2 separate regions of the Homo sapiens genome follow, and region 2 is linked to region 1. A link means that fine-mapping ties the variant in region 1 to the expression of a gene that starts in the linked region. Tissue or cell type: cerebellar hemisphere. Region 1 holds a variant in brackets; the other region holds the start of a gene. All regions are shown on one strand. Distances are from middle to middle.

The links. PIP is the estimated chance that this variant, and not a neighbour inherited with it, causes the effect.
Region 2: FOXM1 starts here. The variant in region 1 is fine-mapped to the expression of FOXM1 in cerebellar hemisphere (GTEx, PIP above 0.99).

The regions. Positions count from the first base shown.
Region 1 is chr12:2,833,008-2,840,865 of GRCh38, forward strand. NRIP2 (nuclear receptor interacting protein 2) reads right to left here and starts at 2,028. Exons shown (of 6, transcript NM_031474.3): 1 at 1,635-2,028. The coding sequence starts at 1,976. It also overlaps a transcript of ITFG2 not described here. RefSeq lists enhancers at 1,165-1,709, 1,710-2,254, 2,255-2,798. The variant C/T (reference allele first, on the strand shown) is at 3,797.
Region 2 is chr12:2,873,222-2,881,079 of GRCh38, forward strand. It overlaps FOXM1 (forkhead box M1), which reads right to left and starts at 3,953. Exons shown (of 9, transcript NM_021953.4): 1 at 3,699-3,953; 2 at 756-1,304. The coding sequence starts at 1,257. It overlaps RHNO1 (RAD9-HUS1-RAD1 interacting nuclear orphan 1), which reads left to right and starts at 4,002. Exons shown (of 3, transcript NM_001252499.3): 1 at 4,002-4,061. RefSeq lists silencers at 3,709-3,778, 3,819-4,258 and an enhancer at 5,842-6,795.

The DNA.
Region 1 (7,858 bases):
GGCCCCTCCCGCTGTTGTGCAGTTTGCTCCTCAGCCATCCCAGGGAGGGAGACGATGGGGTCTTCCCTGCCTGTTGTGCCTTTGCTCCCAGAGCCATAGGAGGTAACTGCTAGGGATCAATTGGGGATATCCTAGGCAGAGGGGAGAGGTGAAAAGCCCGGGACTTTCTCATTAGAAGGCGGGACCTGCCACTCCGGGATGGCAATGTCAGTAGAGCACCTTCTCCTGGGGCCAAACACATGTAGGATGGTCCCCAGTAGGTTCCAGCCATTGAGAGCCGAAGAACCCGCTTCCCTGCTCCATCCCTGTTTTTCAGCTATGCTTGCTGCCACTGCAAGTAGGAATAAGCCCCTGGCAGTTCCCTGAATTAAGTCTCAGTGCAATCCCTTTTCTCGTTGGGAGCTAGGGAATTGCCAGACCTCTGGGCTGTGGTCCTGGTGGGGGCAACCCAGGCTGAGAGGAGTCTGGAAAGGTGGAGCTAAGTAGGGAAAGGCGAGGTGCTGCACTGGCCTTCAGGTTCCCGGGGAGAAGCAGTTGGTGGAGCACAGGCCTGCAGACATGCTTCCAACCTGTCAGTACAGGCCTGGTTGAGTACCTCTTCTCAGACTAGGAGAGGGGACAGGGAACCGAGTGCTCCCAAGCCTTTCTACAAAGGATTTCCTCTCTTCCACGGGTCAGAGGCCAGGAATATTTCTCAGACTAAATGGAGTAATAGCTGGGGGAATAATAATAATAGCATTTAGATAGTGCCTGCTATTAGGCACTGTTCTAAGTGCTTTAAATATATTAGCTCTAACAACTCTCCCAACAATCCTATGATTGATTTGATTCTCATTTAACAGATGAAGAAACTGAGGCACAGAGACGTAAAGTCAATTGCACAAGTTAGTAAATGGCAGAGCCAGGATCTGATCCCAAGCGAAGTGGCTGCGCAGCCCCGCTTGTCAGCATTGCCTCTCAGAGGGGAATGCCTGAATCTGCAGTTTTCCGCCGCCCACTCACATCCTCACTGTTACTCCCCTGCCCCATTCCTCTGAGGCCAAAGCTGCTGCAGACATGGGATGGGAGGAGAGGAGCCTGGAAGGTCCATTCCACTCAGGAGTTGGGGGAGCAGCACTCAAGGCGGCCAGGGGCCCCCGGCAAGAGCCACACAAAACCCTGATGCCCTGGGAAGGATGGAGACCCCCGATGTTTTGATTCTGAGGAGAAAGGACAAGTGGATAGACAGACCTGGTCTGGGGAACCTGTGGTTCGGGGGAAGCAGGAAGTCACAACCCTAAACTGGCCAGTCCTCCAGGCCCTCCTGGTTGTAAGTGACCACTCTAGAGGGTTCCTGTGTTCCTGTAAGCCCCCACTTCTAAACAGCCTAGCTCCTCACCACCCTCAAGTTTGGGGCCATTAGAGGAAAAAGGGAAGCCAAGCAATGAGAGAATAGGAACCCTCAGAGCCACCAAACCATGGGAACATCCCCGGTGAAGAGCCTTGAGTTGGCAGGATGACCTCTCCCCATCTCAGCAAGGGAGCGGGACCTGAAAGCTGAGGGTCTGCACTTTCTGGTCCTGCCTCCTGCTCAGGATCTGGGAAGTGGAAGGAAAAGGCCAGGGGACGCTGGCAGGGGAGGGGTGATGCCTCACCAAGTCCTTGGAGGTGCCGAGCCTCTTGAGGCTGTCCAGCGGGAGCAGGTCGGCCGAGTCCTTGTGCAGGAACTGGGTGGCCTGTTTGAGCCGGCGCTGCTGGCTCAGGTGGGCTCGGTCTCGAAGCTGTGCCTCCTGCCCCCTCGTCCTGGCTTCTCCCTCATCTCTCCTGGCCTCCTGCTTGGTGCTCATGGCCCCTGCTGGAGGAGTGGGCCAGGGGCTGCTCGGTGGGGGCGTCACCGAGTCCTCTCTGCTTCTTCCTGCCTGTCTCTGTCCCGTGCTGCAGCTCTCTTTCCAACAGGAGGGTCTCCACGGGAGGGAAAGAGGAAAAATAAATAACATGCAGGAGCAGCCGCGTCAGTCTCCAATTTCCCGAGATTGCTGTAGAGGGAGTGAGACTCCGGCTGGAAAAACCCAGTCCTAGAAGAGAGGGAGGGTTGGCAGGGCCCACAGCTGGCTGACTTGGCCGCATCCCCAACGCTGGGGTCCTGGTCAGAGCGGGCGGTGGATGGGGCGTATGTGTGTGTGTGTGTGTGTGTGTGTGTGTGTGAGAGAGAGAGAGAGAAGGAGAGTGAGAGACAGTGCTGTAAACTGTCAGGGTGCCCGTGCCAGGTGGTTTGCGAGGAAGCGCTTGTCACTGTGTGGGGGCAGCAGCCTTAGTGCACCTCCCAGCGTGTGTGGCCCCCGCCCTCCTCTGCATCCCTCCCAGGCTTCCCAGGACTGCCCAGCTGTTTTCTCCTGGCATTATCTGCAGCCCAGGGCTGGCGCGCAGGCCAGTAACTGGGTTCAGATCAAAGAGGGGCAGCATGAGAGCGTCCTTCCCTCCTCTCATCCCCCTAGCCTTACCTTGTTAGGTCTCTTGCCTCCCGCCTAGCAGATGTCAGAGTCTTTAACTAATTGACTCTGGATTCTGGGTTCCAGGGAATGACAGGAACAACTCTGAATCTTCCCACGAGTAGAAATTGTCCCTGGCATCTCAGTCTCCTTTATATGACTCTCCTCAAGTCCTGGCTCTTTAAAAAATGTTGCATTTCAAATATACAGAAGTTATAAAGAATAAGATAACCAGTACTCTTCACTCATCACCAGTTTAAAAAATAAGCTGTTGAAGCTCCCTGTGCACTTCCACTTCCGCCTGCTGAAATTGGTGTTTATCAGGCCCAGACTTCTTTATATTCTTTATGCAAATACTTACATATGCATTCTAAGCAATATGTCGTTGGTTTTGTCCTACTCACTGTATTTATTCTTCTGCAATCTGCTCTTTTTTGCTGAATAGTTTTTGTTAGTGAGATTCATCCATACGGTATGCCCAGCTCTAGTTAATTGACTTCACCTGCTGTGTAACATAGTATTCCATTAGATGCATGCATGACATTGAGGAAATGTAGGTTATTTTTCATTTTTAGGTCTAACAAACAATGCTGCTATGAATATTTTTGCACACATCTCCTGGGGCACCTATGTAGGCATTTCTCTAGAGTATACACCTACACCTAGGAGTGGAATTGCTGGGGCATCCCATATACAGCTTTGCCTTTTTGGCATATTGCCAGAGTGTTTTTACCAGTGCACACTGAGACAGCTGCACACAGGGGCTCCTGAGGTTCCACATCCTCTCCAGGACTTGGTATCAGACTTTTTCTAGCCCTGGCTTATCAGCAGATTTTTCTCTCCAGCCTTTCCTCTTCACCATCAGGGAAACGCATTGGCCAAGCACCTGTTTACCTGTGTTGGATGCTCACAGGGTGATTACCCCACCTGAGCCCTGCTCCCTAAGGGTGCAGTCTGACTCAGACAGCTCCAAGGCACATGTACTTTCAGACAAACCAGATGTCTGCTGAGCTTCTAGGAACCAAGCCTCTTTGAGACACTTTCACAACCACTGCAATTATATGAAGAAATACTGTATTCTAATCCCCATTTAGAGGGAAAGAAAGTGTTATGGGTTGAATTGTTTCCTTCACCCCCCAAATGTACCCCTAACCCCTAGTACCTCAGAAGGCGACCTCATTTGGAGATAGGGCCTTTACAGATATGGTGAAGTTAAGATGAGGTCATTAGGATGAGCCTACTCCCATATGACTGCGCTCTTATTAAAAGGAGGAAGTGGGACGCAGAGAGAAACGCACATGGGGAGAACGCCACGTGAAGGCTGAGGT[C/T]GGGATAATGCATCTGCAAGCCAAGGAACACCTAAGAGGACCAGCAAACCACCAGAAGCCAGGGGAGAGGCGTGGAACAGACCCTGCCTTACAGCTGTCAGAAGGAACCAACCCTGCCAACACCTTCCTGTTGTACTTTCAGCTTCCAGAACTGTAAGATGACAAATTTCTATTGTTTTAGCCACTCAAGCTTGTGATACATACTTTGTTATGGCATCCCCAGGAAACTAGTACATTAAGTCTTAGGACCCAGCACAGTGGTTCACGTCTGTAATCCCAGCACTTTGGGAGGCTGAGGCGGGTGGATCACCTGAGATCAGGAGTTCGAGACCAGCCTGGCCAACATGGTGAAACGCTGTCTCCACTAAAAATGCAAAAAATTAGCTGGGCATGGCCGGGCGCGGTGGCTCACGCCTGTAATCCCAGCACTTTGGGAGGCCGAGGCAGGCGGATCACGAGGTCAGGAGACCGAGACCATCCTGGCTAACACAGTGAAACCCCGTCTCTACTAAAAATACAAAAAAATTAGCCGGGCGCGGTGGCAGGCGCCTGTAGTCCCAGCTACTCAGGAGGCTGAGGCAGGAGAATGGCGTGAACCCGGGAGGTGGAGCTTGCAGTGAGCCGAGATCACGCCACTGCACTCCAGCCTAGGCGACAGAGAGAGACTCCGTCTCAAAAAAAAAATTAGCTGGGCATGGTGGCACACGCCTGTAATCCCAACTACTTGGGAGGCTGAGGCAGGAGAATTGCTTGAAGCCGGGAGGAGGAGGTTGCAGTGAGACAAGATTGTGCCATTGCACTCCAGCCTGGGCAACAAGAGTGAAACTCCGTCTCAAAAAAAAAACCCAAAAAACAAAAACAAAACAAAATTAAAAATTAGCCAGGTGTGGTGGCATGTACCTATAGTCTCAACTACTCAGGAGGCTGAGGTGGGAGGATCACTTGAGTCCAGAAATTCGAGGCTGCAGTGAGCTATGATGGCACCACTGAACTCCAACCTGGGTGACAGAGCGAGACACTGTCTCTAAAAGAAAAAAATTCTTAGAAAATATGCCCAAGATTCAGTTATGATATAGCAGAGCAGGTGGTCCAGTCCTTGTGTTCTCTCTCCCAAGGTCTGTTCAATTTACGCTGTGCCTAAAGGAGAATACTGATAGAGATGATAAACACGGAAAGAAAACCAAACTGCAATAGGATGCCATTTCTCAAGATTTGCCCCACCCAGAGCCGAGCTTCATTTAGACTTAGCTTTAGTGGAACTTTCTAGCTCCCTCCCATGTCTTGACATCCATTACCACCATATGTTTGCTTGGGATAGAGGTCAAAGAGGATCCTCTGGCATGTTTTGCTGGGTTCCTGTAGTCATTTCAACAGGATTAACTATAATCTATAATTGATAGATTATTGAGTGACACACAGCGTGATGCTGGGCAGGCCCCAAGCTGAAAAGCATCTCCTCCAACTTACTTTATTCTTAGCAATTCATTCCTTTGGTTTGAAAATTCTTCAGCATCTTCAAGAGTCCTTTACTAATGCATCCTTTGGGGGAGTTGTGCTAAATTATCAACTCACAAGGATGAGATGGCTGGCTCTAGGGAGCCAGCCTGCCAACATGGATGGGCTGTCCCAGGCTCTCAAGTGAGCTCAGGTCTGTACACTGCACTCCAGGGAAGAGTAAATGTGCCTGGGGCATAGAATGGAGACTTTGGAGTTTGGAGTTTGGAGTGGGTTTGGGGACATCAGCTTCTCTCTTCCAGTTAGTCTGATAAGTCCTTTGTTGCCTGGCCCTGGAAACCACTTGTGCTCCGAAAATGCCATTCTCTGGAATGTAGCTGTGGAGTAGGGAGAGAGTTGGCCCCTGTGTTCTGTAACCCAAGCAAGTACTGTCTCACTGCCATCTTGGGGCAGACTCCGCAGTAAGGAGAATCTCTCTTGCCTTTTTGTGTTTCTTGGTTTCTTCCTTTGTAAATACAAGGCATAGTCTCTGCCCTTCCCCCAGATTGCCAGAAGAGTGGGATATATTGTTCTAGCAATATAAAGCTCTGAGGCCTTTCTGCAGGACTGTAGACACCACTTTGCTGTGATAGTGAAGAATGTGGGGAGTGTTGTGAGGCTAGGCGAGCGGCCCGGCCTTGCCCATGACAGCTCAGTCTCCTCCCCTCATAACTTTTTTACCTAACAGAGAATTAAAAAAAAAAAACAATTTAGCTGGGCACAGTGGCTCATGCCTGTAATCCCAGCACTTTGGGAGGCTGAGGCAGGTGGATCACTTGAGGTCAGGAGTTCGAGACCAGCCTAACCAATGTAGTGAAACGCTGTCTCTACTAAAAATACAAAAATTAGGCAGGCATAGTGGCGCATGCCTGTAATCCGAGCTACTCAGATGCTGAAGTGGGGGAATCACTTGAACCTGAAAGGCAGAGGTTACAGTGAGCCGAGATCATGCCACTGCACTCCAGCCTGGGTGACAGGGTGAAACTCCGGCTCAAAAAAAAACCAAATAATTAATCAACAAGGAATAACTCCATTGGTCTCTAATAATGAGACAGAGGGGGAAGAAACTTCGTCCAACTATTCAGGAAGATTAAGCAATTCTGAACCGTTAGGAGTAGAAGAAGTGAGCGTATTCTCGTCCAAAACACTTGGAAAATGTCTGTTATTCTCTGAAGTGAATGGATCTAAATTCAGAAATGCTGAGAGAAAAAATGAAAGTGATAAATATGGCTCCTTCGCTGCATTGGTTCTTCTATGAATGAAGTTTTTTTTCATTCAGAAAAAAGTAGTTATTGAGCGCCTACTATGTACTGGACGCTGAGCTAGGCCCTGGGTGTACAGTGGAGAGCCAGATGAGGTCCCTGCCTTCATGGAGTTCACATTCTAATGGAACAGGTAGATAATGAACAACTAAATTTATAACCTCAGGTGGTGGTAAGTGCTGAAGAAAATACACCATGGAATAGTATGGAGCCATAAAAAATAACAAAATCATGTCCTCTGCAGCAACATGGATGCAGTTGGAGGACATTATCCTAAGCAAATTAACACAGAAACAGGAAACCAAATATTGCGTGTTTTCACTTATAAGCGGGAGCTAAACAATGAGTACAAATGGACACGAAGATGGGAACAACAGACACTGGAGACTCCAAAAGCGAGGAAGGAAAGAGGAGCTAGGGCTGAAGAACTTCCTGTTGGGTACTGTGGTCACTCTCTGAGTGACAGGATCAAGAGAAGCCCAGACCTGAGCACCATGCACTGTGCCCTTCTAACAAACCCGCACATGTGCCCCCTGAATCTAACCAAAAAAAAAAAAAAAGGGCAAGATCTACCAAGTTCATGAGTAGGAAGGTTCAATATAAAGATGGCCGGGCGCAGTGGCTCACGCCTATAATTCCAGCACTTTGGGAGGCCGAGGTGGGTGGATCACCTGAAGCCAGCAGTTCAAGACCAGCCTGGCCAACATGGTGAAACCCCGTCTCTACTAAAAATACAAAAAAAAATTAGCTGGGTGTGGTGGCTCATGCCTGTAGTCCCAGCTACTCGGGAGATTGAGGCATGAGAAACGCTTGAAACCGGGAGGTGGATCAAGTTGAAGTGAGCCGAGATCACGTCACTGCACCCCAGCCTGGGAGACAGAGCGAGACTCTGTCTCAAAAAAAAAAAAAAGGATTTAATTTCTTCCCCAATTTGTCCATAAACTCAATATAATTCTAAATATCATGCCTGTAATCCCAGCACTTTGGGAGGCCGAGGCAGGCAGATCACGAGGTCAGGAGATTGAGACCATCCTGGCTAACACGGTGAAACCCCATCTCTACTAAAAATACAAAAACTTAGCCGGGCGAGGTGGCGGGCGCCTGTAGTCCCAGCTACTCGGGAGGCTGAGGCAGGAGAATGGCGTGAACCCGGGAGGCGGAGCTTTCAGTGAGCTGAGATCACGCCACTGCCCTCCAGTCTGGGTGACAGAGCAAGACTCCGTCTCAAAATAAATAAATAAAATTCTAAATAAAATCCAAATACAATTTTTTTTTTTTGTAGAAAAAAGAGAAAAAAGCAGGGTAA
Region 2 (7,858 bases), 40 kb after region 1:
CCCCTGTCTCTACTAAAAAATACCAAAATTAGCCAGGTGTGGTGGCGGGTGCCTGTAATCCCAGCTACTCAGAAGGCTGAGGCAGGAGAATCACTTGAACCCAGAAGGTGGAGATTGCAGTGAGCTGAGATTGCACCACTGCACTACAGCTTGGGCAACAGAGCAAGACTCCATCTCAAAAAAAAAAAAAAAAAAAAGAAGGAAAATGAAGTCAGGCGCTGTCGTTCATGCCTATAATCCCAGCACCTTGGGAGGCCCATATGGTTGGATCCCTTGAGCTCAGGAGTCCGAGACCAGCCTGGGCAACATAGTGAGACCCCTTCTTCATTTATTTATTTTTGAGACCCCTTCTTTTTTCATTTTTATTTTTTTTTTTGAGACAGAGTCTCCCTCTGTGGCCAGGCTGGAGTGCAGTGGCATAATCTCAGCTCACTGCAACCTCCACCTCCCAGGTTCAGCGATTCTCCTGCCTCAGCCTCCAGAGTAGCTGGGACTACAGACGTGTGCCACCACGCTCGGCTAGTTTTTTTATATTTTTAGTAGAGACGGGTTTCACCATGTTGGCCAGGCTAGTCCAAACTGCTGACCTCAAGTGATCCGCCCGCCTCAGCCTCCCAAAGTGCTGGGATTACAGGGATGAGCCACTGTGCTCGGCCAGAAGCCTGACTGTTGTAAGCATCAAGACTGACTACACACCTTGCCACTACAGAGGAAAGGCTGGGCTCCCTCACCCCTTTCCCTGGAAGACCACATACCACAGGTCTCCCGTTTCTGCTCGCAAAGGGCTCCAGGTGGTCTAGGAAGATTCACATCCCTAGCTGCAGGTTTTGGTCCCAAGGTCTCCAGGGTCACTTCTGTCCTTTTGGCATCATAGCTGGTTTGGGTTTGAGGCCGGAGTCCTGGAGGCTGAGTTGGGGCTCCCCCACAGCTGATGAGGATGAATTTGTTGGGCCCACTACTGCCACTCTCTTTTCCCTTGGCAGTCAGTGCTGTGATGATGCTGTGAATATTAGCATTGTTGGGGATGGCCACTACTTGCGTGTTGGGCATGGTGGGGTGGTTAATAATCTTGATCCCAGCTGGAAACTTGCAAGAGTTGGACTCTGCCACTTCCTTGGAGGCCTCTGCTTGATTAGACTCCTGTTGGGCAGGGGATCTCTTAGGTTCCTCCTCTGATGTTTCACTTGGGGCATTTTGAACAGGAAGGGGCAGCCTCCGTCTTTTGAGAATCAGTGGCCGACGGGGGCTAGTTTTCATTATGAATCTGCGTTTTCACTCTCCATTGAGAATCACAAGTGTGGACCCTGGAAAATGCAAATAGTGGCAAGATGTTAGAGATTGTTTAGGCTGAGAAGAGGTCCTTTTAGAGAAAGGTGCTCCTCTTTATATGACCAGGAACATGAGCCTAAAGGCCCAGGTAAACATTCCATGGACTTTTGTAAAGACCTCAGATAATAAGGAGATAAGCTTTACTGACAAAAGAAGGCTAAAATTACAGCAGACAGAAGCAATTCAAAGGGCAAAAATGGGACTGGGTTGGAGATAAGACAAAGATCTCCTTGAAGCTTCAGAATATTTGGCTACAGAAATGGATGGGATAGCTACAAATATGTGGAAATCTCTATAATTGCCTACTATAATATAAATAGATCACTTGCAATGACTGTATGGACAGAAATGGAAGATGCTAGAATAGGAAAGCATATGGTAATTAGGAGTCCTGATGAAACTCTGATCCCATAATCCATTCAAGACAAAGGATTTTAATTTTTTTTTTTTTTTTTTTTTTGAGACAGAGTCTCACTTTGTCACCCAGGCTGGAGTGCAGTGGCACGATCTCAGTTCACTGCAACCTCTGCCTCCTGGGTTTAAGCGAGTCCCACGTCTCAGCCTCCTGAGTAGCTGGGATTACAGGTGCCCACCACCACGCCCGGCTAGTTTTTGTATTTTTAGTAGAGACAGGGTTTCACCATGTTGCTCAGGCTGGTCTCAAACTCCTGACCTCAGGTCATCTGCCCGCCTCGGCCTCCCAAAGTGCTGGGATTACAGGCGTGAGCCACCGCGTCTGGCCAAGCCTTTTGATTTTTATATTACTTTGTAAATAGGACCAGTGCACACAGAATCAGGGAAGAAAGGCAGATTGTACTATTGCCACACTACTGGAAAAATCATCTCCCAGTTTACAAAACCTCACATAAAATGGAAACCTCTACTGAAGGCCCATGTAAAGTTGTGCAGCTTGTGCACTGAACAACTCTAGAGGGTGACATTTATTTCACAGGCTATTATACTTGCTCTAATTTAAAAAGCATGTTTTCTTTTACAATTTGTATTGTATTTATACAGTGGCATTTTAGTACTTGCATGTGGTTATATATATTTTAACTAAGCATGCCACTTTATTAATTTCTTTTCCAGAAATAAGACTATAACCCCTGTCTTCTTAGTACCACAATGAGCTATCATCATTACACTAAGGTGGTTCTGAAATGCTAACAGTGTAGTCTTTTTTTTTTAAGTCTTTTGTTGATTTTTTTTAATTTTTTTTTTTTTTTTGAGACGGAGCTTCGCTCTTGTCACCCAGGCTGGAGTGCAATGGCGCAATCTCAGCTCACTGCAACCTCGGCCTCCCGGGTTCAAGCGATTCTCCTGCCTCAGCCTCCCGAGTAGCTGCAATTACAGGCATGCACCACCATGCCCAGCTAATTTTTTTTTTTTTTTTTTAGTAGAAACAGGGTTTCACCATGTTTGCCAGGCTGGTCTTGAACTCCTCAGGTGATCCACCCGCCTCGGCCTCCCAAAGTGCTGGGATTACAGGCGTGAGCCACTGCGCCCGGCCTTTTGTTGATTTTAATAGATACATGGAATATTCTACCATTAAGCAAAATTGTGTAATTCTATTTCACGGAACTTTGGAAGACAGAGGAATTGGCTGTCTCTTTTTTAGGACACTTATTCTCTCCCTGAAAAGCAACTGCACTTTTTTGACATTTGTCATCTGCATAGAGTTCACAGGCCCTCCACACCTCTACCTTCAAATCTCAGTTTTACTTTCACCTCCGATCTTTCCAGGCTTCCCTCTCTCCCCGCATCAATCAGTAGATATTATTCCTCTTTTTCCACAGGATATCTAAGTCTTAATTTTCTCTTCTACTTCCTGACCAGCCCGTTATTATTATTGCCAACACTTTCTTGCCCGGGAAACTTCCAGAGTGGCTCCTCCGACCCATCCCCATCCTGAGCGGGGAAATCTTGCTACATTCTCAAGAACCAGGAAAAGGGCCCTGCAAAAGGGTAAGTAAGATGGAGGCGGTGTTGCCTAGTGGTGAGACAGCCTGGGAGCAGGGGAGTGTGTATGCAGGTTGGTCTTTGACTCAATGTAGTACAATCTCAGTCTTCATCTCAGCCACAGTCGGCCTAAGAAGGTAGGCCACCCCAGCCCTCCCGAGGCCGCGGGCAGGGTGCGGAGGTCAGACTTCCAGGGAAGGCCAAGGGGCGCTTTAAGCAGTGAGAAGGCCACGGCCAGGAGGTGGACGCAGAAAAAACTTGCACCCTGGCTCAGATTCTTCCCGTGTGACCCAAATCTCCACTCGTGGCCCGTGCCCTGCTGCTAGACGCCCTGACCTCCGCGCCCGGAGGCCTTGCTCCCCGCCTGTGCCCAGGCCAGGCCTGGGACTCCATTGCTGCATCCCGCTCACCTCCAGACTGCAGTCGCCGCCGCCGTTAGGCCGTAGCTCCGAAGGCGGGCTCCGGGCTCCTCCAACCTGGGGGCCGAGCCAGGGCCCCGGACGGGGGCTCGCGCCGGACCGGCCGGGTCCCCGGCGGTGCGGGCGGGGTGGGAACCCCGGGGGATCCCGGGAGGGGAGGGGGTCCCGGGCCGGGGCCGGGGGTGGGGTCTGGCACCGGAGCTTTCAGTTTGTTCCGCTGTTTGAAATTGGCGCCGGCGGAGCGTTAAGGTCACGTGACGGAACGTCGCCAATCGGCGCCGGCCTTGTCTCGGCATTCCGGGCTCGAAGGCTGTGCGGTCTGCCAGGAGCTGCGGCCCCGTCCGGCCCGGGCTGGTAAGGCGGACCGCAGGCCGGCTTGTGGGGGAAGAAGTGGCCGTGGGGCCGGGGAGGGGCCGGAGGGGTCCCCGCCGCGTGGGTGGGCGAGCCGAGGGAGAGTTTGGGGACGCGCGGAAGCGGCGTGACAGGCCCGGGTCCCTGGGCCCGCTTTTCCTGCCGCGCTGGTCACGCCAGGCGACACGCCCCCGCTTCCCCTCAGGCTCCTCTGCTCCCCTTTTCAAAGCTCGGCTTTAGTTGATTTCCTCACTGGGGGAAATCGTACCCCATTTTCCCACAGTGAACGATCGTCTGCTCCCCCCGATTAGACTAAGTTCCTTTGAGGGCTGCGTATTATCTCCGCTTTCTTCCATCTTGAAAAAAAATGTCGGCACCATGAACCCTACCTCAGCGCGAAACCTGTCTTTTGCCCCTCCCGAAGCCAAGCCTTCGGATATAATAGACCGTAGTGCTTTATTTATTGACTTAGTCAACCAGTCTAGTTGAGCAACTGCTGTGCGCCAGGCACCGCTAGGCCCTGAAGATACAATGGCAGACAAGGTTCTTTCCTTCCCCTGGGCTCACAGCCCAATCCTGGAAGAGGGGCACAGACATTTTAATCAAATAAACAAATGTGGGCTGGGCATAGTGGCTCACGCCTGTAATCCCAGCACTTTAGGAGGCCGAGGCGGGTGGATCACTTGAGGTCACGAGTTCGAGACCAGCCTGGCAACATAGCGAAACCGCTTCTCTACTAAAAATTAGCCGGGCGTGGTGGTGCGTGCCTGTAGTCCCAGCTACTCTGGAGGCTGAGGTGGAAGGATCACCTGAGGCCGAGAGGTGGAGGCTATGGTAAGCCATGATCACACCACTGCACTCCAGCCTGGGCGACAGAGGGAGACACCGTCTCCAAAACAAACAAATGTTGAATTATTGCTGTAAATTGAAACATTAGAGGTTAATGATACTTTGAGTATTTACAATAACGAGATCTTGAGAGGTAGGACAGGAAAGGCTTTTGTAATGAGAGCTTGGTGTGAGATCTGATGCCTTTTACAAAGAAAGGAGGGAACTCCTCTAAGCAGAGGGAATCAGGCGTGCAAAGGCTGGATGGCAGGAGGAAGCACAGTGAGTACAAAGGCTGAGAAATATCTGAGGGGTTTGAGCTAATCGACCTGAATGGAGTGTGGTGTGAGTTGAAGCTGGAGCCGGAGGAAGCAGAGCCTTAGCCATACCGAGAAGTTTTGTGCTTATCCAAGAATTAAAGGAAACCAGTCATAAGCTTTAAGCAGAAGTGAATCCAGGTCAGATTTGCATTTTAAAAGGTCCCTCTATAGCGGGGATTGCTAGAGTGGATTAGGGCAGAACAGTTGGATGTTGCAATACTCCAGGCAAGAACTGCTGGAGCTTGAAAAAGGGTGGCAGGGAGAGAGAGAGAGGAAGAGAAAGAAGGAGACAGAGAGAGTAAAAAAGGGGCATTAAGAAAACATGTTTAAGAGGTAAAGTTGACAGGGCTTGATGGTGGGTTGGATGGGAGGTAGAAGTGTCAAGATTTTCAGCTGCATAACTGAAGGAATAATGACACTATTCCCTGACCAAGGGCCCTGGAAGATAATCACTTTGGCCAAGGGACGGGCGGGGGGTTGTCAGGGGAATGATCGTGAATTCAGTTTTTGTTTTTTTACTACAAAGCAATGCTCAGAATGAGTTTTTTTTTTAATTATATATTTATTTTTATTTATCTTTTTATTTTTTAGAGACAGGGTCTTGCTCTGTCCCCCAGGCTGAAGTCCAGTGGCATGACCTTGGCTCACTACAACCTCAACCTCCTGGGCTCAGGTGATCCTCCCACCTCAGCCTCCTGAATGGCTGGGACCCCCTACAGGCACATGCCACTACACCCATCTAATTTTTGTATCTTTTGTAGAGACAGGGTCTCACTCTGTTGCCCAGATTGATCTTGAACTATTCGGTTCAAGTGATCCTCCCACCTTCACCTTTCACAGTGTTGGCATTACAGGCATGAGCCACTGTGCGCGGCCAAGTTCAGTTTTAAACTTGTTGAATTTTTTTTTCTTTTCTTTTTTTGAAACAAGGTTCTGGCTCTGTCACTCAGGCTGGAGTTCAGTGGCACGATCTCGGCTCACTGCAGCCTCCACCTCCTGGGCTCAAGTGATCTGCCCACCTCAGCCTCCTGAGTAGCTGGGACTACAGGTGCACGCAGCCGTGCCCACCTGATTTTTTGTATTTTTTGTAGAATTTGGGTTTCACTGTGTTGCCCAGGCTGGTCTCAAACTCATGAGCTCAAGCGATCTGCCCACCCCGGCCTCTGAAAGTGCTGGGATTACAGGCGTGAGCCACTGCGCTCAGCCTTACACATGTTGAATTTGAGGTGCGTTTGAAATATCTAGTTGCTGTTCAGGTAGGTAATGGGATATTTGGGTCCCAAACTTAAGGAATTCTAAAATATATAAATATTGAAGTCATCTACTTCTAGGTGGATACTGAAATACAGGCAGATGAGTTTGCCTAAGAAAAGTATATAGAGTGAGAACAGCTCCAAAGCACAACCAGAGGGGAAGGACTTAGACAGCAGAATGAACTGACCTCTAATTAGAGCAGAAAGAAGATAGATGTTGATACGCATAGGTTTGTATATTTGCTTTCTGGAAAATGAGAGTATTTCCTTTGATGTCTTCTGTATTCTTTGTCAAGTAGGAAGTAAAGTCATTTGTTAAGAGAAAAGGGGTGTTCTGAAGTTCTAAGAAAGTGGGCAGGGTGTGGTGATTCACATGTAATCCTAGCACTTCAGGAGGCTGAGGGAGGAGAATCACTTGAGCCCAGGAGTTCAAGCAAGACCTCATCTCTACAAAAAATAAAATAAGAAACTAACCAGGTGTGGTGGTGCTTGTCTGTATTCCCAGCTATTCGGGAGGCTGAGGCAAGAGGATCTCTCGAGCCCAAGAGTTTGAGGCTGCAGTGAGCTATGATCGTGTCACTGTACTCCAGCCTGGGCAACAGAACAGGACCCCATCTCTAAAAATAATTTTAAAAATTAAAATAAAAATGTTCAGGCTGGGCGTGGTGGCTCACGCCTGTAATCCCAGCACTTTGGGAGGCCGAGGTGGGCAGATCACCTGAGGTCAGGAGTTCAAGACCAGTCTGGCCAACGTGGTGAAACCCCATCTCTACTAAAAAATACTATAATTAGCTGGGCGTGGTGAGGGCGCCTGTAATCCCAGCTACTTGGGAGAGTGAGGCAGGAGAATCGCTTGGACCTAGGAGGAGGTTGCAGTGAGCCGAGATCACGCTACTGCACTCCAGCCTGGGCAACAGAGTGAGACTTTGTCTCAAAACAAACAAACAAAATTTCCACTTTATTTATTTATTTTGAGATAGGGTCTGTCTGTCACCTAGGCTAGAGTGCAGTGGCACGATCATAGCTCACCATATCTTCAAATTCCCAGGCTCAAGTGATCCTCCCACCTCAGCCTCCCAAGTAGCTGGGACTACAGGTACATGCCAACATGCCAAGCTAATTATTCTTTTAAATTTGTAGTAGAGACGAGGTCTCTCTATGTTGCCCAGGCTGGTCTTGAACTCCTGGCCTCAAGCAGTCCTCCCATCTCAGCCTCCTAAAGTTCTGGGATTACAGGCGTGAGCTACTGCACCTAGCTTGGAGAAGTTTTAAGATAATCTTTGTGGAGAATGAGTTGATCAAGGAAACAGGATTGCTGAGCAACGTACCCATTTGAAGCTGATGACTTTCAGCAAGTCATGAATTTCAAAACTATAGCCATTGCTACCACTGTTATCTT